Homo sapiens: one gene and its partners. The protein of the gene in region 7 purifies or fractionates together with the protein of the main gene of each other region. This does not show direct contact. Each region holds a gene or a part of one and is shown on either strand. Other genes may lie near its edges.

What was found.
Region 1: the proteins of ATP2A1 (region 7) and COA1 purify together in Homo sapiens (affinity purification with mass spectrometry; one large-scale study listed by BioGRID and IntAct). This does not show direct contact.
Region 2: the proteins of ATP2A1 (region 7) and OSTC purify together in Homo sapiens (affinity purification with mass spectrometry; one large-scale study listed by BioGRID and IntAct). This does not show direct contact.
Region 3: the proteins of ATP2A1 (region 7) and CUX1 purify together in Homo sapiens (affinity purification with mass spectrometry, with the first as the bait; one large-scale study listed by BioGRID). This does not show direct contact.
Region 4: the proteins of ATP2A1 (region 7) and SLC25A17 purify together in Homo sapiens (affinity purification with mass spectrometry; one large-scale study listed by BioGRID and IntAct). This does not show direct contact.
Region 5: the proteins of ATP2A1 (region 7) and CFAP54 purify together in Homo sapiens (co-immunoprecipitation; one large-scale study listed by IntAct). This does not show direct contact.
Region 6: the proteins of ATP2A1 (region 7) and ABCD1 purify together in Homo sapiens (affinity purification with mass spectrometry; one large-scale study listed by BioGRID and IntAct). This does not show direct contact.

What each region holds. Positions count from the first base shown.
Region 1 is NC_000007.14:43,642,524-43,646,023, reverse strand, and holds part of COA1 (cytochrome c oxidase assembly factor 1 homolog), read left to right. Parts: intron 1-624; coding exon 625-773; exon of another isoform or gene 774-778; intron 779-3,500. UniProt on the Homo sapiens protein: Component of the MITRAC (mitochondrial translation regulation assembly intermediate of cytochrome c oxidase complex) complex, that regulates cytochrome c oxidase assembly.
Region 2 is NC_000004.12:108,653,599-108,657,098, reverse strand, and holds part of OSTC (oligosaccharyltransferase complex subunit OSTC), read right to left. Parts: intron 1,536-3,500; coding exon 1,442-1,535; intron 1-1,441. UniProt on the Homo sapiens protein: Subunit of STT3A-containing oligosaccharyl transferase (OST-A) complex that catalyzes the initial transfer of a defined glycan (Glc(3)Man(9)GlcNAc(2) in eukaryotes) from the lipid carrier dolichol-pyrophosphate to an asparagine residue within an Asn-X-Ser/Thr consensus motif in nascent polypeptide chains, the first step in protein N-glycosylation.
Region 3 is NC_000007.14:102,198,626-102,202,125, reverse strand, and holds part of CUX1 (Homeobox protein cut-like 1), read right to left. Parts: intron 3,325-3,500; coding exon 3,259-3,324; intron 2,056-3,258; coding exon 1,954-2,055; intron 767-1,953; coding exon 1-766. UniProt on the Homo sapiens protein: May be involved in intra-Golgi retrograde transport.
Region 4 is NC_000022.11:40,769,130-40,771,738, reverse strand, and holds the end of SLC25A17 (peroxisomal membrane protein PMP34), read left to right. Parts: intron 1-757; coding exon 758-905; 3' UTR 906-2,109; downstream 2,110-2,609.
Region 5 is NC_000012.12:96,646,577-96,650,076, reverse strand, and holds part of CFAP54 (cilia- and flagella-associated protein 54), read right to left. Parts: intron 2,203-3,500; coding exon 2,060-2,202; intron 187-2,059; coding exon 5-186; intron 1-4. UniProt on the Homo sapiens protein: Required for assembly and function of cilia and flagella.
Region 6 is NC_000023.11:153,731,356-153,734,855, forward strand, and holds part of ABCD1 (ATP-binding cassette sub-family D member 1), read left to right. Parts: intron 1-3,496; exon of another isoform or gene 3,497-3,500. UniProt on the Homo sapiens protein: ATP-dependent transporter of the ATP-binding cassette (ABC) family involved in the transport of very long chain fatty acid (VLCFA)-CoA from the cytosol to the peroxisome lumen.
Region 7 is NC_000016.10:28,877,125-28,881,287, reverse strand, and holds the start of ATP2A1 (sarcoplasmic/endoplasmic reticulum calcium ATPase 1), read right to left. Parts: upstream 2,801-4,163; 5' UTR 2,617-2,800; coding exon 2,499-2,616; intron 2,332-2,498; exon of another isoform or gene 2,190-2,331; coding exon 2,172-2,189; intron 1,800-2,171; exon of another isoform or gene 1,788-1,799; coding exon 1,705-1,787; exon of another isoform or gene 1,367-1,704; intron 1,246-1,366; exon of another isoform or gene 1,194-1,245; intron 374-1,193; coding exon 269-373; intron 1-268. UniProt on the Homo sapiens protein: Key regulator of striated muscle performance by acting as the major Ca(2+) ATPase responsible for the reuptake of cytosolic Ca(2+) into the sarcoplasmic reticulum.

The DNA of each region.
Region 1 (3,500 bases), on a different chromosome or scaffold from region 7:
GGAGTTCCCAGGTAGCCTGTGGGCTCAGAAGGATTCCTGAGACTGAGAGCAGTTTGAGTTGAAATGTTGGCTTAAATCTTGATGAATGAACATTTTCATATCCTGTTTCTAGGCCTGAGGGTTTTGTTGTTAATGTTGTGGTCTTTCTATTTTATGTCTCAACTTAGTGGAACAGGCAGTGTTGAGAAGTCAGGTATCATGGATTCTGGCCTCGGCTTTGCCATGGACCAGCTGTGTCACTTTGAACAAGTCATGGAATCATAGTAGGACTTTAGAGCAAACTTAGAGACTTGAGAGGAAACTTAGAGAAGAGCTGACCAAACCTCTTAGGTGTCAAAATAAGGCAATGAGTGAGGGTAGAAATGAGGTGAAGCAGAAAGGGTCTGCATGAGGTCAAGGCCCAAGGTCATCTGCACATCCCTGCAAAACACTGCCTGCCTGTGCTTTGGTTTTTGAGTCTGTAAAATGGACAATTTAGAGTAGATGGCCTTAATTATTCGTCCATCCACAGATTTCACGTTTCTGTTTCTACCCTGTACGTCAGTTGGATTATTTAATTTTCTGTGTAGTAGATTCTACCTGACCAAGTTCAATAAAGAAAATAAGTGTGTCTTTCGTCCTTAGAGTTTCATTCCAGGGCTTTATATTACAAGTTGGCAGTGGAGCAGCTGCAGAGCCATCCCGAGGCACAGGAAGCTCTGGGCCCTCCTCTCAACATCCATTATCTCAAGCTCATCGACAGGGAAAACTTCGTGGACATTGTTGATGCCAAGGTAATGTGCTTTCCCTGCGAACCGCAGGCTGGTGCCTGCTGAAGGAGAGGAGAGTCTACTGTCTCCTGGAAAGTCCTGGAGTTAAGGATTTGGGATGGGAAAATCCACTAAGTAAAGCTAGGTTTGGCACCTTTAAAAAAAGTTTTTCTATTATGGATTTTAATGTTTATATAAAATATATTTTATATTATAGATATTTCTGTATACTTTTCTTCCATTCTGGGGAATTGATGTGGCAGGGAATGCAGTGGGTATGCTGATGTCGCCATCTTGAATTGAAGGTAGTAGAGAAATGACCAGTGGTGGTTTGCTACCATGTTGGCTTTGATAGCTCTCAGCACTTTGGGAGGCTGAGGTAAGAGGATTGCTTGAGCCCTGGGGTTTGAAACCAGCCTGGGCAACACAGCAAGACCCTGTCTCTCTCTCTCTCTCTCTCTCTCTCTCTCTCTCTGTCTCTCTGCCTGCCTGCCTGCCTGCCTGCCTGCCTGCCTATCTATCTATCTATCTATCTATCTATCTATCTATCTATCTATCTATCTAATCTATCTATCTATAATTTAGCCAGGCGTGATAGTGCACACCTATAATCCCAGCTACCCAGGAGGCTGAAGCAGGAGGATCGCTTGAACCCAGGAGTTGGAGGCTGCAATGAGTTATGATCATGTCACTGCACTCCATCCTGGGTGACAGAGTGAAATTGTCTGTAAAATTAAAAAAAAAAGAGAAATGCATCTATATCCAGTCAGTGCTCATTCAAATGTACCCAACTCTTTAAACTTTGATTTTTAAAGTGTATTTATTTACATTGCTTCCACAGAATACCAACCCATTTTTTTAGCTATAACTTATCTTTTTGTACTTGATCACACTCACTTGCATGTAAAACACATTTGTTCTGTTTAACAAACATATTTTGAGTATATGCTCTGGTTTGAGAAATGATTCTAAGCTATGTGGGGAATAGAGGTGCAGAAGGCTTTTGGGGGTTTACAGTTGAAAATTCCTGAGTAAGACAGGGTGAGGGAAACCCTGTCACTATTGTGCAGGCCTAGGGGAAGTGGCTCGAGGCCTGGGAGATGGCTGTGAGGACTTTGAAAGGTGGAGAGGAACACCCGGCTGAGGAGCAGCATGCCTGGGAAAGTTCATCACTGTGTCGCCTGTCAGTGTGATACGGCAGTGGAGGCACAGGTGGGCGAGGTGGGTGTGGGCAGGTAGGAGGGGCTGCGGCCACCAGGGGCCACAGTGTCATCTTGGAAGGTGTGTGCTTGACTCTGGCAGCAGAAGCCCGTAAAGTATTTGGAGGATGAGTGAGGTGATCCGACCTACATTATTTTTTGTTATTTTTAGTATGTTCTTAATGGACCCAGCTCTAATGAGACTTTTTTCTAACTACAAAAGCAATTCATGCTCTGGTATTCTGATTAAAATATTCGGTTTTAAAAGAAGGTGGATTTGTGTAGATTGGTAATGCCCAGGGACTGGCTACGGGGAGCCATCTTTAGGAGAGAGATGTGGCCACACTGGTGTGCAGTGGTGAGAGCATGAACCAGAGGTGTGGCCTGGAGAAGCAAAAGACGGATGTGAAGCCATCGTGGCATCCAAGTGACAGAACTTGGTAACAGTCATGTATCAGGAGCGGGTGGGTCAGAGGTGATGGTCCAGTGTCCAGCATGGACGTGAGTGGAAGGACGGCAGCGACACTGCGTGAGAGAGGACATCCTGGAGGAGGAGCACAGGGAAGGGCTGGGCATGTGTGGAGTGCTCACTCTGTGCCAGGCCACCGGATTGCTCCCATGGTGTGGCGGAGCCTGTCTGTTGCTTCCTTGCCTTTGGTCACTTGGCTAGACCCCAGCAATCCTGAGAACTTGGAAAAGCCACTGGGTAGGTCTGGCTGTTGCGTTTCTCTCAGCACAGAGCCCAGCTGTAGCACTGAGGAATTGTGTGCCAAAGGCGCCTTTGCTGGGGCTGGTTGATGCAGCATCCATGATCTGGTGCTCCAGGAACCCCAGTGAGAGTAGGGTAAGGCCATGGTGGTTTTGGTGGGAGCTTTGTCCTGTCCAGCTTTCACTTTGGCCCCAGTGGTGCTGAGAGGGCGCCTTCCTGGGCTTCCCCACATCCCTGGGGCCTTGGCCATGCTGTGACTATGTTGGTTGTGGTGCTAGGTTCTGGCTTCTACTGCGGCCAAATGCTGTGACTCTGCAGTGACAGGAGTTCAGAGTCTGCTGCATCATGGCCACCTGGAGCCTCAGTGCACGCCTTCCAATTTGTGGACTATTTTTGACATTCTGTCAGGGTCCTTTCTTTATAATCAGCGGTTTGTGAGGATGCCTGTATACAGCATATGCCCTCTTATCCCAAATTCCTTTATTTGCAATTTTTACAGTTTTTCCAGAGGTGAGATGTTTCAGTTGTTCATGAAGTAATTGTCATACATTGGGATTTTTTCCCAAGTATGTGTGTGAGATAGTCACCAGTGACCAACACTTTGCTTTACCAGAACTCCTGCTTTAATCTTTGGCAAGGTCTGGCTGGTGAAGGAACCAACCTGTAAAGTGTCACATCTACCCATGGAAGCACAGCTGCCCACAGTTCAGACATTGGCCCCTCAGAGTTTGCTCTTCTTCAGAATCCTTCTTGCTTCTGCCCATTTCTTTCTCCTTCCTTTTTAAATTTTTTTTTAAAGCATCCAGAGATGCTCAGTGTATACTCTGTTGCTTAATTCTATAA
Region 2 (3,500 bases), on a different chromosome or scaffold from region 7:
ACCCAGAACTTTAGCTTAGCTTTTTTTTTTTTTTGAGATTGAGTCTTGCTGTCGCCCAGGCTGGAGTGCTGTGGCACGATCTCGGCTCACTGCAACCTCCACCTCCCAGATCGCTGGGACTACAGGCGCGTGCCACCACGCCTGGCTAATTTTTTGTATTTTTAGGGGAGACAGGGTTTCACCGGGTTAGCCAGGATAGTCCCAATCTCCTGACCTCGTGATCCGCCCATCTCGGCCTCCCAAAGTGCTGGGATTACAGGCGTGAGCCACTGCGCCCGGTCTAGGTTAGCTTTTTTTAAAAAGTTATGCTATTTAAATTTCTACTATCAATTCAAACTAATTTTGAATTGGTTAGATGTGTTTCTTGAAGTTTTATGTTAATAATAATAAACTTCTTGTTTCAAATGGAAATATTTTAAAAAGAAACTGTTCTTAAATAAGGCTCCATGGGTCCCATAAGAACTTCAGTGAACTACAAACCCCTCTAATTATATGTAAAAGTGTGTGTGTGTGTGATTTTTCTAGGGATACAGAGCTTTTATCAAATTCTCATAGTTCAAGGACCTCAAGAAGAAAATTTCTCGTTAAAGGGATGATTATACATAGGCATATGTAAACAGGGTATTTTTTTTTTTTTTTGGTCAATTGTTTTCATTGAAAACACAATATATGTACCAAGTTCAAAATTCAAACAGTGTGAAAGAGGGCACTATGAAGAGCCACCCTACCATCAACCTGTCATTAACTCCCCTCCACAGAGAATACTAATAAATCTTTCCAGAAATATTCTATGCATAAATAGCATTACTGCAAATATAAACATATAGCTATGTTTTGGTAGATATTAAGTAAATTTTAGAAAGCAATATAAGCATTGTTCAGGTGAACAAAACCACACTGGAACGGGGTTTCACTGATGAAACAGAACCCTCAAAGTCTCAAAAATACTTTTGTTATTTAATGGTATAGACCAGGGTATAGTCCAAAAATATTTTCTTAAATACCCATATAGTAAATATCTTAGGCTTGTGGGGTATATGGTTTGTGTCATACTTATTCAGCTCAGCCACTCTAGCTTAAAAGCAGCCATAGATCATATAAAACACATGGGCATACTTACTTCCAATAAAACTTTTTTGGGGAAAAGAAAAAAAAAGCAGCTATAGTTCACTGACCCCCAGAACAATCTATAAATGTAGTTTAAACTGACACCCTACTGTAAATTGGTGATACATCATTATGAAATACTTTATTTCTTAATAAATAAATAATATACTCTTGTTTTTGACTCACTTTCTGCCATTTCAGAATCCAGCATTTTAAAACAGCTGTTGTCTAAATACACATGGATCCCATAGGTTTTACTCTATTTTTAAATAAGTGGGCATACCACAGCAACCTTCTTTCCCACCACCAAATCATTCAAAAAGGTATCTTTTACCTGTAGGCCAAGAAAGCTACTGGCCTCTGATGCCCATGTTCATCAGTCATAGAACCGACACTTGGAGGTTCAACAATAACATCATAAATTATTCCTATAAGAAAGACAACAGAACAGATTAGATTGTATTACTAATTTTTGAAAACAGGATTATAGTTTTCATTGTCTCTTAAGGTTCATTTACTTTTTTTGAGACAGAGTCTCACTCTGTCGCCCAGGTTGAGAGTGCAGTGGCGCCACTTGGCTTACTGCCAAACTCCGCCACCCAAGTTGAAGCAATTCTCCTGCCTCAGCCTCCCAAGTAGCTGGGACTACAGGCGCCCACCACCATGCCCAGCTAATTTTTGTATTTTTAGTAGAGACGGGATTTCACCATATTGGTCAGGCTGGTCTCGAACTCCTGACCTCAGGTGATCCACCTGCCTCAGTCTCCCAAAGTGCTGGGATTACAGGTGTGAGCCACTGCACCCGGCCAAGTTTCATTTACTTTTAAATAGGAATGCTTTGATTGTATTATTATAACCAAATGTGGCCCAACTCATCTAAAGTTCTGATAAATCATTCAGACATTCAACTCAATGTTTTAGAATTACTTTGAAAACTGTATGATATCTAAATGAAGTACAAATTTCATAAAGGAAATTCATCCAATAAGAGTTGCTAATACTCAGGAATGACTTTAGTATAAAGGGGATTTAAAACTAAAGGCTCTACTTCGGTTCACAAAAATTGTCTCAGATATGCTTAGATTTGTTTCTATAAATTGAAAAATAACTAGAGAAATTGCTTAAATGTAAAACAAGGAGACATTTTAAAACCACGCCATCAGGCAGAATGGCAATACTAGAGATTCATAATCATTAACATTAATGTCCACCATTATGTCATAATGTCATCGTGATCATTAACATTAATGTTCATCAGCACTAATAGTTTTCTCAATCTCCCACTGTCAACATCTACTCTACCTTCTCCACTGTTCTCAAACATCTTCATCTCCAGCTTTTCTTAAGCATAACAAGCCTATCTCCCTTATCCTAGCCTGACAAAACAATCCTATAGGAATTCCCTTGTCTTTTCCCCACCAAATCTACAAATACCTGGTACCTGCATCCATCCTCACCTCCTTCTTTCCAGCTACAAAGAGGAAGATTCCCACCTCCTATAATGTGGGATCCCTTTTGCAATTACCAGGAGTCCATTCCCACTTGGACTCTCAGGGACTTTATTCCTTTGGATATCTCTCCTCTCTCCTGTATTTTCAAGCTCTCCTTCCCTACATCAACCCTCCTTGACTTCAGATCCTCTTAGCTAACATCCTATTTCTATCTTTGCTTTCTGAAAGGGAGTCAGACTTTCTTCTGGAAGACTTAGGCAAACTTGCCATCTCCCCTTTCTTACTTACCCTTCATTCTTCAACTCAATCCAATCTGGCTTCTGCAACCATTGATACTGCTCTTTCTAAGGTCACCAATGATCTCCATGTTGTCAAATTCAATAGACACTTTTCAGTTCTCATCTTAGGGGACTTCTCAGAAGCACTCAATCCAGTTTACTAAACCAATTTCTTGAAAAACACCTCTTCTTATGGCTTTTGTGATACTCCTCTTCATGTTTTCTTGCTACCTCTCTATTGGGCCTCTTCTTTTATAAAAGAACTAAATGTTGGAGGCCCTCAGGGATTGGTCCACTGTCCTCTTCTACTTTTCTCCAAAATGAACTCCCAGGGCTTTCAATTTCATGTGCTAAAGACTCTCAATGTGATGTGCCAAGGCCTCTCAAATAATGCCAGTACCATTAGAATTACATGTAAGCTCCTCAAGAACAGAGACTTTGGACTTTGCCTATACTCTTCAATGTCTCATGGGAGTTCCAGAAATGTCTGTTAGTTGACCAACTTCAACACAGGCCTCTTTTCTCAGGTCTAGACTCCCATCTGCACATGTGACATATCCAACTAATTTTACCCCAAAACAACCTCTGGTGCACCATTTTCCACCAAAAACTTTGTTTTCTCAATCTCAGGAAATGATACTTCCATCTATTCAGGAGCTCAAAC
Region 3 (3,500 bases), on a different chromosome or scaffold from region 7:
ACCTCCTGGTACATGTAGACCTCGTACTGCTCGGGGGTCAGCGGGGGGACCGAGGGCTTGGTGGGCTTGGACATGGGCACGATCGGGGAGGATGGCAGGGGGCTGTTCTGTGGTGTCTCGCTGCGGCTGGCCCCGGTCAGACTCAGCTCTGAGCTCTGGGAGTATGGGGACTCAGCGCTGGGCCACTCCTTCCAGTACTCTGACGACGAGGGTCCCTGGAGCTGACTGCGCTCGGCCCGAGGCTGGCTGCCACCTCCGCTGCCACCGCTGCCCTTCTCTTTCCCGCCGCCCGTTTCTTCGGCCTTGGCCTCCTCGGAGGAGGCGGCATTTCTTCTCTCCGGCTGCACCGCGCTCCACCAGTGGTCCTTCCAGGCACCGCTGCGGCCCACCTCATTTTTCACCTGTCTCAGGACCCCTTGTGCACAATCGGCTGCTCCCTGGGGGTCCAGCCCGGGGGCGTCCTGGGCCTCCTTTTTGAGGGCCGGGGGGTTCGGCAGAGCAGAGGCACCGGCCTCAGGAGCTGCGGAGGGCTTCTTCAGGGAGATGGCGAGAGGTGGGTAGCTGGACACGGTGGGCATGGGCGAGGTGGACAGAAGCTTGGGGGTGAGGATGGTGATGTCACTCTGGGACAGTGGTGCCTGCTTTAAGGCAGGGTCGAGGGCAGCCTGCTGGGCCTCCATCTCCCGGCGGGCTTGCTGCAGGATGGAGCGGATGGCGTCATCAGAGTTCCCGCTGCCGGATGCGGAGGAAGGCTGGGCCGGCTCTGCTGCATGGAGAAACAGGGGTGAGAGTGTGGCAGGGCGGCCCCCTTCAGCTGGGGACATGCTTCTCATCCTAACTTGACCTACTGCAAAGTGTGGGTTATTTGGGAGAACCACACTGTGTATTTCCCCAGCATGGCCCCTGTCAGTGAAACATTCAGGCATCTTGTCTCAACCAAGGACCAGGGCCTGACACTACAGCTTGATGACCTGGTGGCCTTTGGTATACACACAGATGTAGAGGGTAATAAAGGGGGTGTCAGTGAAAGTGCTCCCCGACCTGCCCTCCTGGGGCTCCTTTCCCCGAGAATTTTTTTTTTTTTTTTTTTTTTTTTTTTTAGCGACAGGATCTCGCTGTTGTCCAGGCTGGAGCGCAGTGGCACGATCACGGCTCACTGTACCCACCCTCCACCTCCCTGGCTCAAGCAATCCTCCCAGCTCAGCCTCCCAAGTAGCTGGGACCACAGGTGCATGCCACCATGCCTGGCTAGTGTTTTAAGAGACAAGGTCTCTCACTGTGTTGCATAGGCTGGTCTTAAACTCCTGAACTCAAGTCATCCTCCCCCATCAGCTTCCCAAAATGCCAGGATTGCAGGTGTGAGCCACCGCGCCTGACCTCTGATAATTTTTATACTTGGTATTCATTTTCCTGTGCTATATTCTGAAATGCAAGTGGTTCTGTCAAAGTTAAGGAGCGTAATTTCTGTGAATAATTACAACTAGGGGCCAGGCGCGGTGGCTCACACCTGTAATCCCAGCACCGTGGGAGGCCGAGGTGGGAGGATCACTGGAGGTCAGGAGTTCGAGACCAGCCTGGCCGACATGGTAAAACCCCGTCTCTACTAAAAACACAAATATCATGGGCATGGTGGCACATGTCTATAGTCCCAGCTACTCGGGAGACTGAGGCAGGAGAATCGCTTAAACCCGGGAGGCAGAGGTTGCAGTGAGCTGAGATCGTGCCACTGCACTCCAGCACAGGCAACAGAGAGAGACTGCATCTCAAAAAAAAAGGTAACTATTAGGCAAATACAGATCACACAGACCTGCTTCTCTCTACGTGCCTAAATGCTTGAGAACAGGCATTCATTATTGTTTAAAAAAAAAATAGTTAATTACTGCTGACCAGAGCACTCATGACAATTCTCTTAATTAAGTTTGAAGACAGTGGATGAAGAAATGGAAGCTGTACCAGTTTTCTGCACTTGGAGCTCCCTCTTGGCTTGCTCTAGGATGGACTTGATGGCTTCATCAGAGCCAGTCTCCGAGGCTCGGATCCGGGTGGTGATGTTACCTGTGGGGAGAAGTTGCGCCAATGACATCAAACCCAAACCCCGGACAAAAATCAGCGCTGCGCGAAGACGTCATTCTGATATATAGCCCCGGGTGGGGGCTGGTGACACAAGGAGGCAGATGTGGCCTCCCAGTGGCCTGTGTTTGCTGTGAGTGCAACTTCACAGCGACACCGGGCAGGAGGGATTTCCTGCTCATTTGACCTTACGGTCAATGTTACTCTGCCAAAGCCGGACACCACCCGTGGGTTAGTACCCGGGAGAACCGATCATTTAATCCATATATATAAAAGGCGAGTGATTAAAAGGCAATGTTTCTCATGAGTCACTTAGAAGCAACTGCTGTGGCTTGGGACTGACTCTCCTCGGGGTTAGATGTTTATTGGATGCTGGGGTCCCACACAGGATAAACGGAAAAGGAGGGCAGAGGGTTTGAGGCTGATTGTCTATCAATCATTCAGAGGCACAGGGTGAAGAAAGGCTTAACTTAAAAAATTGTTTGCACCTATTATCACATAATATCTTTTTAAAATTTACATACGAGGAAAGGAGCCTGCAGAAATTCCTAAGTGGGGAGGATGGATTCTTTCGGCCACATGGTGATGTTTTGTGCAGGCACACGTGCCGACGAAATGAGGCTACTATGGCCCAGGGGCTGGCCCCAGCTCTTTCGGGAAGCCACCCGGATAGTTTAATTTCTTACTACCTTCCTAAATAGGAACCACTGCATTCAAAACAAGTATACCACCATTTAAAAACAAGTATGCCACCGGGACGATGTGGGATGCGTCCGTTCCATAGGACCTTGAGTGTGTTTCCGAGTTAAAAATACGAGGAAGCAGCAGTATTTAATTTGACGGGTCACCTGACTTTTCTCAGAGCAACCGCTGTTATTTTTTCAACTGCGTCTGAGAAAAACGGGGGACCGGGTAATTAGGATCTGAAGTGGGCTGGGATTCAGACTCGGGGGGCTTAGCTTAGCAATGCCTCTTCTCACCCCCGCCTGTGCTTGGGAGAGGGCAGGCAGCTCGGGAGGAAGGGGCTGGGTGTGCTTGAACCCGTGCCTTGTTTTATACTTACTAGCTGTTTTTCCATCAGGTTCCAGGCCAGAATCACACTGCACAGTTTTAACCCAAATACACAGCTAAGGACATGCTGCTTCCCTAGGTGACTGACTGCAAAGAAAACGCCTGCCTGCAACATACCTTCAGACCCATTTCTTCGTTTCGGTACTTCCTGAAATAGTCTGTTCAGGCTCTGGCCTGGATTCTCTGTTGAAAAACAAGTGTGGTAAGAACAAAACAATCAGGGGAATGGTGGTGTTGACGATATGGGCTGTGTGACATGAAATCTGAGCCGCCTGTCACTAAAGAAAGGGCTCAGGGCTGCCTGTGCAACTCGGGAGTTTCTAGAATCTTCTGAGAGGCCCTTCCCTGGCTGACCGGCC
Region 4 (2,609 bases), on a different chromosome or scaffold from region 7:
CCACCTTCCCCCCGCCACTACTCTTCCCAGTAGTCTCTGGTAACCATCCTTCTACCTTTATCTCCATGAGTTCAATTGTTTTGATTTTTAGGTCCCTCAAATAAGTGAGAACATGCGATATTTGTCTTTCTGTGCCTGGTTTGTTTCACTTAGCAGAATGACCTCCAGTTCCATCCATGTTGTTACAAACAACAAACTCTCATTCTTTTTGATGGCTGAATAGTACTGCATTTTGTATAAGTACCACATTTTCTTTATCCATTTATCTGTTGATGGACATGTAGCTTGCTTCCAAATTTAAGACATTATTTGTAAGAACCAAAAACTAGGGCCTGGCACGGTGGCTCACACCTGTAATCCCAGCACTTTGGGAGGCTGAGGCGGGCAGATCACGAGGTCAGGGGATCGAGACCATCCTGGCTAACATGGTGAAACCCCATCTCCACTAAAAATACAAAAAAAAATTAGCCTGGTGTCGTGGCGGGTGCCTCTAGTCCCAGCTGCTAGGGAGGCTGAGGCAGGAGAATGGCATGAACTCGGGAGGCGGAGCTTGCAGTGAGCCGAGATCGCGCCACTGCACTCCAGCCTGGGCGACAGAGCGAGACTCCGTCTCAAAAAAAGGAAAGTACTTTGACAACAGAAGTCTGTGTTGAAATCTAAAACCTCTATTGCTTGTTCTTATCAAAGTAGCTATCTAGGTAGCATGTTCTCTGATGCAGGAGCTGACTTCTGTTTTTTCAAACCTCTTTCCCTTTAGACGTTTTGGAATAATGGGACTCTACAAAGGCCTTGAAGCCAAACTGCTGCAGACAGTCCTCACTGCTGCTCTCATGTTCCTTGTTTATGAGAAACTGACAGCTGCCACCTTCACAGTTATGGGGCTGAAGCGTGCACACCAACACTGAGACGCCTTCCCATGAAAAATTCCGAAGATGCTCAAGAGGGAGGTTTCCTCCTGAGTGAAGAGAAGTGATTCTCCCTTGACTCTGGCTCCTGCCACCACAAATGTTACCCTCATTGGCTTGAAAAGCATCCAAGGGTGCACAGGGAGTATGGCCAACTGGACCTGTTGTCACCTTAATTGTCATGCTGGCTGGTTGGATTTTGGGGTGGCAGTTGGACTAATGTGAAAAAAACATTGCTGAAAACCTAAAAATGAAAGTTTGTGAGTGTTTATTGGTTTTCTTAAGAGAAATGGACTATTTTGCTCTCATGTGTAATGTTTTCTATTTAAATCTTTCTTAAATATACCAGCTGTTCTCTTTCCCTGAACTCTCCCCCAGGTTCTAGGACAAATTTAATAACATGTAATTCTCCTCAAATACTTTTGTATGTCTCAGTGTTGGTGTTTTCCTCCCTAAAACTAACATTAGGGCTGTGCCACGGGCATGACTTTATTTTTGTTGGGCTTTTTTTTCCCTGCTTAAGGAGAGGTGTCTTTTTTGGATATGAGCTATTTATTTTGTGAAATGAAAATTGTTCACCCAAATGATTCTCTTATAAACTATTTGTAAATGTCACTTATTCATTAGTGTTTGACATAATTTTTAGAATATTTATTTTGAATCAATCCTTTCATTACGAAAGACTTGAAGTTTTGTGTCCATTCTTACAAGCCCTGGTCAGTCAAGTCCCAATAAATGGTCAGCACAAAAAAGATATTCTTGAAAATTGCTCTTTATTAAGGTATTACGTTGAGTTTGCAACCAGATGGGAAAAATCACAAAAATGAGAAGGGGAGCAGATATCTTGTTGAGGTCTGGATATTATCTCCCTTTATAAACTTGGTGTAGGCCGTATATTTTGAAAATAAACATCTGGTTGAGGTTATTTCATTTGGAAACCTTCCTTAGAGTCCTGTTGCTCAGTGTGGTCCATCAGACGGTAGTACTGCCACAAGCTGAGAGCTTGCTGGGCACGCAACCCAGAGTTTCTGAATCCTGTTCCGTATTTTAACATTCCCAGGTGATTCACAGCCACATTAAAGTTCAGGAGACCATAGGACCCCTGACCCATGAGAAGAAGTGATTGGTTTCGATTATAGACATCAAGATAAAGATTTTTCTCAAAGGAAAGAGATTAATGTATTAAAACAACCTCTGAAAAATCTAGGAGTCGTATGTCATCTTTTGCTTTCACCTCACAGCACGTTGTTAAGGTGGTAAGGCTTTTATTATGCGGCCAGGAGTGGATTTAGATATCTCGACCCACTCAGGAAGCAAATTCACTTGACATTAGCAGAGCGGTTCTTTGGATTTCTATGACTTCCTTTTTGTCCCTATGACAAAATGGCGGGTTTTTCATTTGTAAGTCCATGATTTAGTCAGAGAGAGTAATAATGAAATACTTCATTATTAAGGATTTAGTTCAATTTTGAGAGTGGAAATTTCCTTCTCTTATTTCCTCTCTTTAGTCCCTGTGGTAATTTCAAAGTATATGATTGTTAAAGATCATTGCATTGTTCTAGCAAACAAAAATTAGCAGGAGCTAATAATCTGGGAAGAAGACTGAACATTCATCCCCTATTTAAGTCAGAGAATTGAAGACAGAATTGTTTTTTCTATTTTTTAATTTTACTTTAAGGTTTTTGTGTGCCTGTGGCAGACCTT
Region 5 (3,500 bases), on a different chromosome or scaffold from region 7:
TTACCATTGCTCTCCTGCAGTATAAAAAGATTTTCATAAAATGATCCATTACACACAAATTTGCTCCTCGGTCCTTTTCTTTAGCACTAGAACCTGATTGAGAGTCTGAGTCATAAACTGTTTGTGTCTTGGACATATTTTCATCACTCATTATGGAATTAATAAATGTAGAAAATTCTTCAGCATCTACAGTACAAAAATAAGATATGACATGATTAAAAACATAGAATTAAGTTCCAGAAAACACAGTAGGTGATAAGGATCAAGTGAGTAATTCAGATAACAAATGCTACATAAACTTGGAGAAAGGACAAGACTATCAGAGATACAATGAACCAGGGAAAGTTTCTAGAGAAGGAGGTATTTGGGTCTTAAAGAATGGGCATCATTTAGCTATATGGGGAAATACAGAGAACGTCATTTCAGACAAAGTCGATGGCAAAAGGAACAATGCAGAAGTAGGAATGTACATGTTTTTTGAAAGGAAAAATAGAAAATACTACTGTCCTTTCATTTCCTCCCAAACAGGCCATTCCTAAGACAATATATCAGAAAGTGAGCTGCACCTCTGGAGTTAGGCAATGCAGCAACCTCGGCCACGCATTCCCCTCCTGGTGTGGCATAAAAAAGAAGGCTTTCTCCTGCCACCAACTTTCTCTTAGAACCCTGCATTAGATAGTAAGTCTCGGTAGCAAAATATTCTATTGCCAATTTCATGGTAGGTCTTAGGTAGAGAGCCAGTTTTAAAAAAAGAAAAACTCAGGAAGCTGTATACTAAAATCTATATTCAAAAACCAGACTCTATGGCTATGGAATTCACTTTCAAATACTTCACTATACACAGTATGATATGCACATACCTGTGAAATCTAATCTATATCCTAGAAGAAGTCAGAAAGCATGCCAAGTCCCTCAAACATAAATCAACACTCCTGGGGCATTAACTGGCATACCAAGAACTCTGGTTGGCAATAAATCCCATAGCACTTAAAATGTCATTACTAAAAGTCTATATGAGTATGTAAGAGCCTAAAGGCATTAGAAATAAATTTTTATTTGTGAAATGAACCATATCATTGGTTAGAAAGTGTCCAGGTTCCATCATCTTTGCAGGAAAGGGGTGTGGAAATTAGTCAGGTTCGTCAGACTACAGTTTCCAGAGCACACCCTGATCAAGAACCCTGTTTTCGGCCGGGCGCAGTGGCTCACGCCTGTAATTCCAACACTTTGGGAGGCAGAGGCAGGTGGATCACAAGGTCAGGAGTTGGAGACCAGCCTGGCCAACATAGTGAAACCCCGTCTTTACTAAAAATACAAAAAATTAGCCAGGCGCGGTGGCACGTGCCTGTAATCCCAGCTACTGGGGAGGCTGAGGCAGGAGAATCGCTTGAATTCAGGAGGCGGAGGTTGCAGCCAGCCGAGATCGCCACTGCACTCCAGCCCAGGTGATAGGGTGAGACTCCGTCTCCAAAAAAAAAAAAAAAAAAAAAAAAAAAGAACCCTGTTTACCTGCATGTCTCTACCTTTTGGAGCCCCCTGTCACCTGACTAGATAACAAGGCTTCATTCATCTTAGAGTGAGCTTTCTTGGAAGATGCTGGTTGGAAATCCTAGGGCAATGGTGGATTCCCCTGAATACAAAATCAGCTATCATGATAGTTTGGGTGACTGCTTGTATTAGTATGTTTGATGGATTTTGCTTGGGAACTTATTTGCACTAAAACATAATACCCAATAGCAAGTCTTCACCTATCTTGAACCACCAAAGGCTATGAATATTAAATTTAAAACATTATATTTGCTGAACAATCTAATTGGCTAAGGTTAAAATACAAAATAGATATTTCCAAATATATGCAATAATATCATAAGAATATAGAAATTTTTTAAAATAGAGCAAACAAGAATCTCCTACAAAATATCAAAACTCAACTAAATTGCTGGTCCTTTGGAAAACTGGGTGTATACATTTGTGTGTCCACAATGTGTATGTGTGCTGTGTTGTTTAGTGAATAAAAATCTAGAGGTAATTTAATAATAAACTAACATGTTTATTTTACCTGATGGTAAGTTGGCCTTTCTTTTTTTGGCTGTAAGAAGGAAATCAAGCATTGCTTTATAATTTTCTACAGTCAATTTTCTTGTTGGTAATACTGTTCCTGAATTATACAGTGAAAACATGTTAGGATCACATGATCGGAAACTGCAAGGGGGGAAAAATCATATTAAAAAACAATATAAGCAAAATTGAATTAAATCTGTCAAATGCAATCTATTTTTATTTTTAAAACATTTGTGAGTACTCCCAAATTTTAAATCATGAAGGGTTTTGTCACTTAATCAAAGCCCAACATTTTTTCACTAACTTTTAAAATTATGCAATGTAATTTTGCTCTTAGGAATTTTAACATCAATATATATTTCTCTGAAAGGGCTCTTGAAAATGGGAATAAAAATATCTGTGCCGGCTCTGTGAGCTCTGAAACGATAATTTATTTCAACTTAAAACCACCTGATTTGAACAGAACTCAATGACAATGCTTACTATATATAGTAATGTGTCCATAATCAATGGCATTTCTTTTTTTTTTTTTTTTTTTTTTTTGGGACAGAGTCTCGCTCTGTCGCCCAGACTGGAGTGCAGTGGCGCGATATCGGCTCACTGCAAGCTCTGCCTCCTGGGTTCACGCCATTCTCCTGCCTCAGACTCCAGAGTAGCTGGGACTACAGGCGCCCACCACCACGCCTGGCTAAGTTTTTGTATTTTTAGTAGAGGCAGTGTTTCAGCGTGTTAGCCAGGATGGTCTCGATCTCCTGACCTCATGATCCGCCCACCTCGGCCTCCCAAAGTACTGGGATTACAGGTGTGAGCCACTGCACGCAGCCCTCATTTCTTTTTTAAAATAAGGTCTAGGCATTGAACAGTCTTGCATCAAAAAAAATAAATAGTTTATATTCATTATTCTTTTTTTATTATTATACTTTAAGTTTTAGGGTACATGTGCACAATGTGCAGGTTTGTTACATACGTATACATGTGCCATGTTGGTGTGCTGCACCCATTAACTCGTCATTTAACATTAGGTATATCTCCTAATGCTATACCTCCCCACTCCCACCACCCCATAACAGGCCCCGGTGTGTGATGTTCCCCTTCCTGTGTCCATGTGTTCTCATTGTTCAATTCCCACCTATGAGTGAGAACATGCGGTGTTTGATTTTTCGTCCTTGCGATAGTTTGCTGAGAATGATAGTTTCCAGCTTCATCCATGTCCCTACAAAGGACATGAACTCATCATTTTTTATGGCTGCATAGTATTCCATGGTGTATACGTGCCACATTTTCTTAATCCAGTCTATCATTGTTGGACACTTGGCTTGGTTCCAAGTCTTTGCTATTGTGAATAGTGCTGTGATAAACATATTTGTGCATGTGTCTTTATAGCAGCATGATTTATAATCCTTTGGGTATATACCCAGTAATGGGATGGCTGGGTCAAA
Region 6 (3,500 bases), on a different chromosome or scaffold from region 7:
ACAAATTGTCCTCCCTGAGTACCCTGTGTTTCTTTTTTTCTGGGTACTTTGATCACTTTCTTTCTTTTTGGCATTCTGCAGTTTCACTATGACATGTTTAGGTGTCAGTTTTTGTTGATTCTGCTTGAGACTTGTTATATGTCCTTTGAATATTTGAGTTTTTCAATCATTCTGGAAGATTCTCAGCTATTAGCTTTTCAGATATTGCCTGACTCTCATTCTTTTTTCCTGTTCTTCTAGAACTGGCAGCCAGTGCTGGACTTCTGACTCTCTTCGTTGTGTCTTTCGGTTTCTGTTTACTGTTTCCCATCTCACACTGTCTGTGCTGAATTCTGGGGATGCCCTGAGGCCTTCCTGTTTGCTCATTTTCCAGTTCACCAGTTTTCTCTTTGGCCATGTCTAATTGGAATTTTGTTCACATTTCAGTGGCTGTTTTGTAAGTTCTATTTCATTCTATTTCAAATAGGAATTTGAAAATGGACATTTCCTTTTTCAAGTAGAAATGTCAGGCTGTTTCTGTGTCTTATTTGCTCATCTTTTTGACTGCTCCTTTTATACTGTGTATCAGGTTAGTCATACTTACCCCACCGTCTCTATCTGATGGTTTGGTTAGCTTCAGTTCTTGGGAGTATCATTCGCCTGTCTTCTGTCTGCTGGTCTTCACTCATGGTGGATCATTTCCTTGTGGGTTTTGCAACAGAACTTCTATGGGGATTGGTGTGGCCTCAATGGAGGGTGTAAGTCCAAATGTCCTTCTGTTTTGGCCAAGCACTCCAGGGTAAGCAGTTGGAGGCCATTAGTTAGTGCGGAGGGGATGGTTCCTGAATTGAGAGGTGGTTTCATTTGAATTCATTTGAACTCCAGGCACATTGTTACAAATTTTCAGAGGAGGCTTTTTGTTCATTGGGCATAGAGCCCAGGCTAAGCAAGGAAAGCTTCCTGGTCTTTGCCCTGCCTGCCTCTGGGGCTATCAAAGGATCACCTGGCTGTCTGCTTCTCTTTGCTCCCAGAAGTTTCCCTTGCTTTCCGTCAAGCTTGGCTCTGCTCGAAATAGTGTCGTAGTTTACCCAGTTTGGTGGGAAGAGGGTTTTCGATTTATAAACAGAAGTCTGATTCTCTCCCTGTTCCTGTTTCCACCTCGGGGCTTCCATGCCCTCAACTGTCTGTGTCATCCTCTGGGTGACTCACCAAGAGGAAGGATCTAATTCGGGGACTGCACATCAAGGGCAGCCTTGATGCTGGCGTAGGTGCCCAGCCCAGTCAGCGCACCTAGCCCCGGGCACCGAGACAGCCCGCGAGACAGCACCTGCAGCCGCTTCGCTCCATGGCTGCCATTGGTCACATCGGGCTGCTCCCTGCCCTGAAGGCTTAGGACTTTTCTGAGCCTCTGCTGTGCCAGGCTTTGTGGGCTCCTGGCCCTGCTCTGGTGGTCCTCAGAGCCAGCAGCCTTTGAAGGCTGTGAAGCATTCCCTTTCCCCTGGCTTGATAGGCTCTGTCCTGTGGCCGTCTGTTTTTTTTTGGAGGGGGAGCTTTTGAGATGGAGTCTCACTCTGTCTCCCAGGCTGGAGTGCAGTGGCACGATCTTGGCTCACTGCAACCTCCATCTCCCGGGTTCAAGTGATTCTCCTGCCTCAGCCTCCCAAGTAGCTGGGACTACAGGTACACGCCACCATGCCTGGCTAATTTTTGTGTTTTTAGTAGAGATGGGGTTTCGCCATGTTGGTCAGGCTGGTCTTGAACTCCTGACCTCAAGTGATCCACCTGCCTCGGCCTCCCAAAGTGCTGGGATTATAGGTGTGAGCCACTGTGCCTGGTCCTGTGGCCTTCTTATTTCCCCAAATGCCAGGCCTGCTCTGTCTTGGGGCCTGTGCCAGGAGCACTCTTTCCTCTGCTGCCCCATGGCGCAGCCCCCCTAGGCAAGGCCCGGCCTGCCCACCGCCACCTTTCCTGTCTCCTTCCCTGCCCCACTGCTCTCCCAAGCACTCGACACCCCGTCAGTGGCGCTTTTCTCTCTCCCTGCCATGGACTGCAAGCTCCATGGGGTCAGGGATTTTTGTCTGTTTTGTCCCTGCTGTGTCCCCTGCATCGGGTGGCTAGTGAGGGCTCCAGGTGCTTCAAGGAGGTGGAGCGCACTGGGTGGGAAGGCAGGCTCTTACCGGTTGGAAGATTTAGATAAGCTTTGCTGGGCTGGTGTGCAAGGCAGGTGGGCTCAGGAGATGGGCAGGGCCTGTGGCTCCCACTCCAGCCCTGAGGCCTTGCTCTGTCCAGCTCTGGGGCCCTGGCCTTATTCACCCAAGGCTCCAAGAGAACCTGCAGAAGGCAGCTGGTTCTACGCCAGGATGCCCTGGGCACAAAGACTTGCAGACCCTTCCCTTTGTCCACAGCGACTGTCCAGCTCTCAGAACACCTGGGGAGGAGGGCTGTGTCCTTGAGAGCACCGTGGGAAGGAAGGTCCAAGGCCTTCGACCTTTAGGATTCACATCCCCGCCCCGCCAGCCCAATCTAGTTCCCTGGTTTCCCGGGCCAGGCCCCTTTCCACCCTGCATGGCCCTGAGCGGATACTGCGTTCCGTGTCTTCCCCCAGCCCCCAGCCAATGATCCCTGAGGCTTCCCCCTCAGGATCACACCCACCCCTGGATACAGTCCTCGGGTCCTTCACAGGACATTCCCACCACTTCAGCCACACCCCAGCACCCTCAGAGGCGGCCTTCGCCCTTGCTCCCCACCTCTGCTCCTGTGGGGAATCTAAGGATCAAGAAACTGAGAGTCAAGGCCATTGATGAGGGTCAGGGGTGCTGCCACGGGGCCTAGAGTGTGACAGAAAAGCAAATTAAGACAGGAGCAGCTCCTGGGAGAAGCAGACACCAAACAATACGGCTGCTGGCCCAGAGGTCAAAAACCATGGCCTAGAGGGGGCGGTCAGGAAGTGGGACATTAGGCCGGGCGTGGTGGCCCATGCCTGCAATCCCAGCATCTTTGGAGGCCAAGGCAAGTGGATCACCTGAGTTCAGGAGTTTGAGACCAGCCTGGCCAACATGGTGAGACTTCGTCTCTACTAAAAATACAAAAAAAATTCGCTGGGCTTGGTGGCGGGTGCCTGTAATCCCAGCTACTCGGGAGGCTGAGGCACAAGAATCCCTTGAACCTGGGGAGGCAGAGGTTGCAGTGAGCCAAGATCACACCACTGCACTCCAGCCTGGGCAACAGAGCAAGACTCCATCTCAAAAAAAAGAAAAGAAAAAAAAAAGAAAGTTGGCGTTTCAAAGCCAAACAGCTCTGGGCGTTGGATGACAAAGTTCAGATGTGCCCCAGGAGGGGCGACATCAGTGGTGCAGGACAGAGGGCCGGTGGAAGGAGCTGGCTGTACGTAGAAACAAAACCAGATGCCTACTGGTGCATTTAAAAATCAACGTTATTGAGACGTAATTAACATACTATACAATTCTTCCTTTTCCATGTACAGTTTAAATTCATTCACAGAGTTGTGCAGCCATCATCAC
Region 7 (4,163 bases):
CACACTGGATTGCTAGCCCCATTTTATGGATGAAGAAACTGAGGCTCAGAGGGATGAAGGAACTTGCTCAGGGTCACATAGCCAGGAAGTGACAGTGGGTCACAGTCTCCCACCTCTTCCCCACACTCCATCCCATTCCAGACCAGGGGATAGGACCAGAGGAAGAGGCAAGTATGGGGGAGGTGATGGAGGAGGAGGAGACTGGAGGGAGGGTTGGCCTCTTCTTCACTGTTGGGACATGAAGGGGTAAGGAAGGGTCAACGCTAACCTGCCAAACCCCCACGATGGCATTGGCAATGAGGATCAAGAGGATGACAAAGGGTTCAACAAAGGCAGTGATGGTCTCTTCACCTTCCTCAAACCAGGCCAGCACCTGGGGAGCAGGGGAAAGGAGAATGACAGGTAATGAGGCCCCAAAACAGATGGAGAAAGGAAGTGGACCACTGCAAAGGGGAGAACTGTGCAGGAGAGTGCAGGAGCCAGCAGGAGGGCCGGGCACCGTCGGGGCGCTGTGGCCCCACATCCGTCTGAGGGTCTGTCCATCCACTGCAGGTCCTGCCACCGCCTTACTCAGCGGGATGGGCGCGCACAGACTTGCACCACTTGGGGGATTAGCTGGGAATGCTTTCAGGTTTCCCTGACCAAGCTGCTGGCTTAGAAGCGAAGCTCAGGCCAACCCCCCGCACAGCCACATCCATCCCACGGGAGCCAAAACCCGAGAGGAAAAACCCTGTGGTCTTCGCAGGCGGTCTGGCCCCCGCAGCCCTCCCCCTCGGCCAAGGCAGGGAAGCTCCGGTTTCACGAGGGAGCCGGAGCGGGGATAGGGTTACGGGGCCTCCTGCGCGCGCCCCGCCCCAGCTGTTGCCACCGCCAGGCAGCAGGCAAATGTCAAGGAGCAAATCTGAGAAGGGAGAGGAGAGGCCCTGCCAGCTTGTGCTTAACGCGACGGGGCCTGCGTTCGGAGACCAAGGCACAGGGAGGCTTTCGTTGCCTCCAGAGTCCCCAGCGAGGCTCACATGCTGCGGAAGAACCCGCGACATGCAGATGGACCGCGGGATGGGGAGTAGCCCCCAGGGCGGGAGAGGAGGCAGAGCCCTGGAGATGCCCTGCGGGGGTGGGGGTGCCTAGGGAGCGCGGGGAAGGGCTAAGGCCAGGCTGGGCGGGTAATGAGGGATGCCAGTGCCCTCCCTGACCGGGCGCCGGGCTCCTTGGAGTCATCATCACACCGCCGCGCTTTCCCGCCACTAGGAGCGAGTCCTCCCCTCGACCAATCAGCGTCAGGAGGCTGGGGAGGGCGGGGCAGGGGCGCCGACGGGCGCGGGGATTGGTGGAGCGGCCGTCCGCCCGGCGCATGCCGGGAGTGGCAGTGGCCCCCCGCGCCGCAGCCGGCATCGCGGCGGGACCCGGAGCCCGGAGTTCGGGTGGGTAACCCGAGCTCTCCAAGCTCTTGAAGCCGCGAGGGTGGCTTAGCTTCGGTGTTTTGGCTGAGAACACCCTTAAAGCTTAAAATAAAACCTGCCTCTGGGGTGCAGGGGAGGAGAGAGGAGGACGCGAATCACACCCGCTGCTGCGCGCCAGCCCGCCCCGTCTGTACAATGGGATGCTCGGGACTCGGACGGGAGGATCCAGTGACTGCGAGCCCCGCATTCGCCCGATCCCAGCCTCACACCCCCAGCCAGCCCCCAGAGACCCTCCCACACTTACGAAGGAAATGCATGCGGCCAGGAGGAGAATCCGCACCAGGAGGTCTTCAAACTGCTCTATCACCAGCTCCCACAGGGTCTTCCCTGGGGGAGGAGGCAAGGGGAGGGCCCCGGGTTAAGGTCTAGTGGGTGAAGGTCTGGGATGGAGCGCCCTGGACTCCGGCCTGCAGTGGGGAGGCTCTAGGGTGGTGGGCAGACAGCTTGGTGCCCAGAGAAGGGCTAAGAAGCTCGCCTGGAGTCCAGAAACAGACTCGGCAAAGTGGGGGGCAGTTCAAGGGTTGGCTGCTTCAAGGAGAAAGCGCCTGGGAGACTTCTGCCCCGGACAGGACTCTAACCTTTAGGGAGGGAGATTTGCCTTTTGGGAAGGGATATTTGCTCAAAGAATCTAAAGAGGCAGGGAGGAGGGAGTGGGACAGGGCGGGGTGGGGGGTGGTCATTTATGAGAGTTCAGGGATTCCAGTAACTTACCTTCCTCAGCAGGGAGCTCTACCCAGGAAAAAGAAGAAAAGGACAGATTCATTTGGGGTTCAGCCTCATGCCCCCCACACCCAAGACTTTGTGGCTAAGAGAATCAGGCCACCTTGAGGTTCATCAAGTTCATCCCATTAAAACCTCCCAAAACTCTGGATCTCGGGACTCTGTTTTCTCAGTATCTTCTTCCCCCTGCGAGCATTGGACAACGGCCCAGCTCTTCCTTAAGAAACCCTGAAGGGAGAAACGCGTGCATGCGTGTGCGTGTGTTTTGGGGGTGCAGGAGGGCATTAATTACCAGCCGCTCTTCCAAGGGACACTTACCATTGAGGCCGTATTTCTCCAGATTCCGCTTAACTTGGTCCGGGGTGAGGCCCGTGGTCTCACTCACCCCAAAATAGGCCAAACATTCCTCCGTGGTTTTAGCATGAGCGGCCTCCATTGTGCTCCCTTCCTGGGGGCCGGGGCCGGTGTGTTCCTTCCAGGGGGTTCCCACTCGTGGGGGGTCTTCCTCAGTGTGTCCAACTGCCTGTCTGCCTGGGTTTCTTCTTTTTACTCTCCTGCCCCCTCCAGGTTTTTCTTCCCTCCACAAAGCTCTGACCCCCGTCCCACTTGAGCAGCCGGCCACCCCCCGGCCCCCAGCTGGTCCTTATGAGGGAGCAGGGGGAGGCCGGGCTCCCCCCTCCACCAGATCAGGGATTGGCTGGCTGAGACTCCAGCAGGAGGTGGTCAGAAAAGAGAGATATTTCTGCTGACAGAGGGGGAACAGTGGGGCTGCAGCCTGAGATGTCACTCATGAGGGACGCAAAGGTAGCCCCAGCCCCAGGGAAGTGGGGTAGGGAGAGACTTCACTTTCTGTCATCTGCTACTGACCCTGCCCCCCCATTGCCTCGACTTCCCCAGCTGCATTGAATTTCCCATTCCAAACTCATCCCCCCAGTTCTTCCCGGAGCCCTCTTCCATCCCCGGCCTCACCTGTCCCTTTCCTCACACCCCCCTTCCTGCCTCATCTGCCCGGAGCCTGTTTCCATTGCCGCAGTCTCCTTCCTCCTCACCCCATTTGCTGAAGCAGTGGCAGAGATACCCCAAGCCTTTGGGGGACTGATGAAGGGAGAACATCTTTTGGGGGCTAGAGGAAGTGAGTGGCTCCTAGAGGGACAAGGGGAAGTGAGGGGAGAGAGTCAAGGGGACAGGGCCGAAGATGGTAACCCTACCCTAGGGAGGGGTTGCCACAGCCATCAACAAGGGATTTAGTGTCCAGGCCCTGGTGAGCAAAGCCAGCACTGCCTGTCTCTCCCCAAAACTGCCCCCCCCCTTCCCCATCGCTCTAACTCAGCCTCTGGGAACAGAGCCCTGAGGGCCCCCCCATCCTGGATAGGGAATCCCCACCCCACCCCCAAGAAAATGGGACACCAAGGCAGCCAAGTAACCCAAGAGGCTACAGAATGTGCTGATGGCAGAGGGGGAGGGGTAACTGTCTCAGGATGGGGGCAGGGGTCACCCCAAGTCGTGCACTGAGGGTCACCTCATCCCACACTGTGCTCTAACCAACGGGGTTTCTGTGGCCAGCCCCAGAGGCCTGTGGTCTGCGCTGCACTCTGCCCTGCTGCATCTGTCCACGAGGGGAACAGGATCAGGCCCATGCTGTGTGCGTGCAGGAGCTAGGCAGACCCCACAGAAAGGTGTCGGGGCCTGGGGAAGCTGGACCAAGCAGGGGCTCCAGACCAAAGGAATGGGGAAGGGTGGACTTCTGGGGACAGGTCTGGGGGAAATAAGGACAGATGTCTAGACCTAGGGGGAAAGGGAGCAGAGACACAGAGCCACCAGGGTCAGAGGGAAGTCCGAGCAGCAGTGGGGAAGAGGGACAGCAGGGAGCCAGGTGGGCGGGGACCCCGGCGCTGGGTGCAAAGCCACAAGTTGTTGCTGAATGCTGGCCTTGGTGTCAGCTTCCTCAGAGAAGCAGCTGCTCTGAGCTGCCCCTCCCCACCC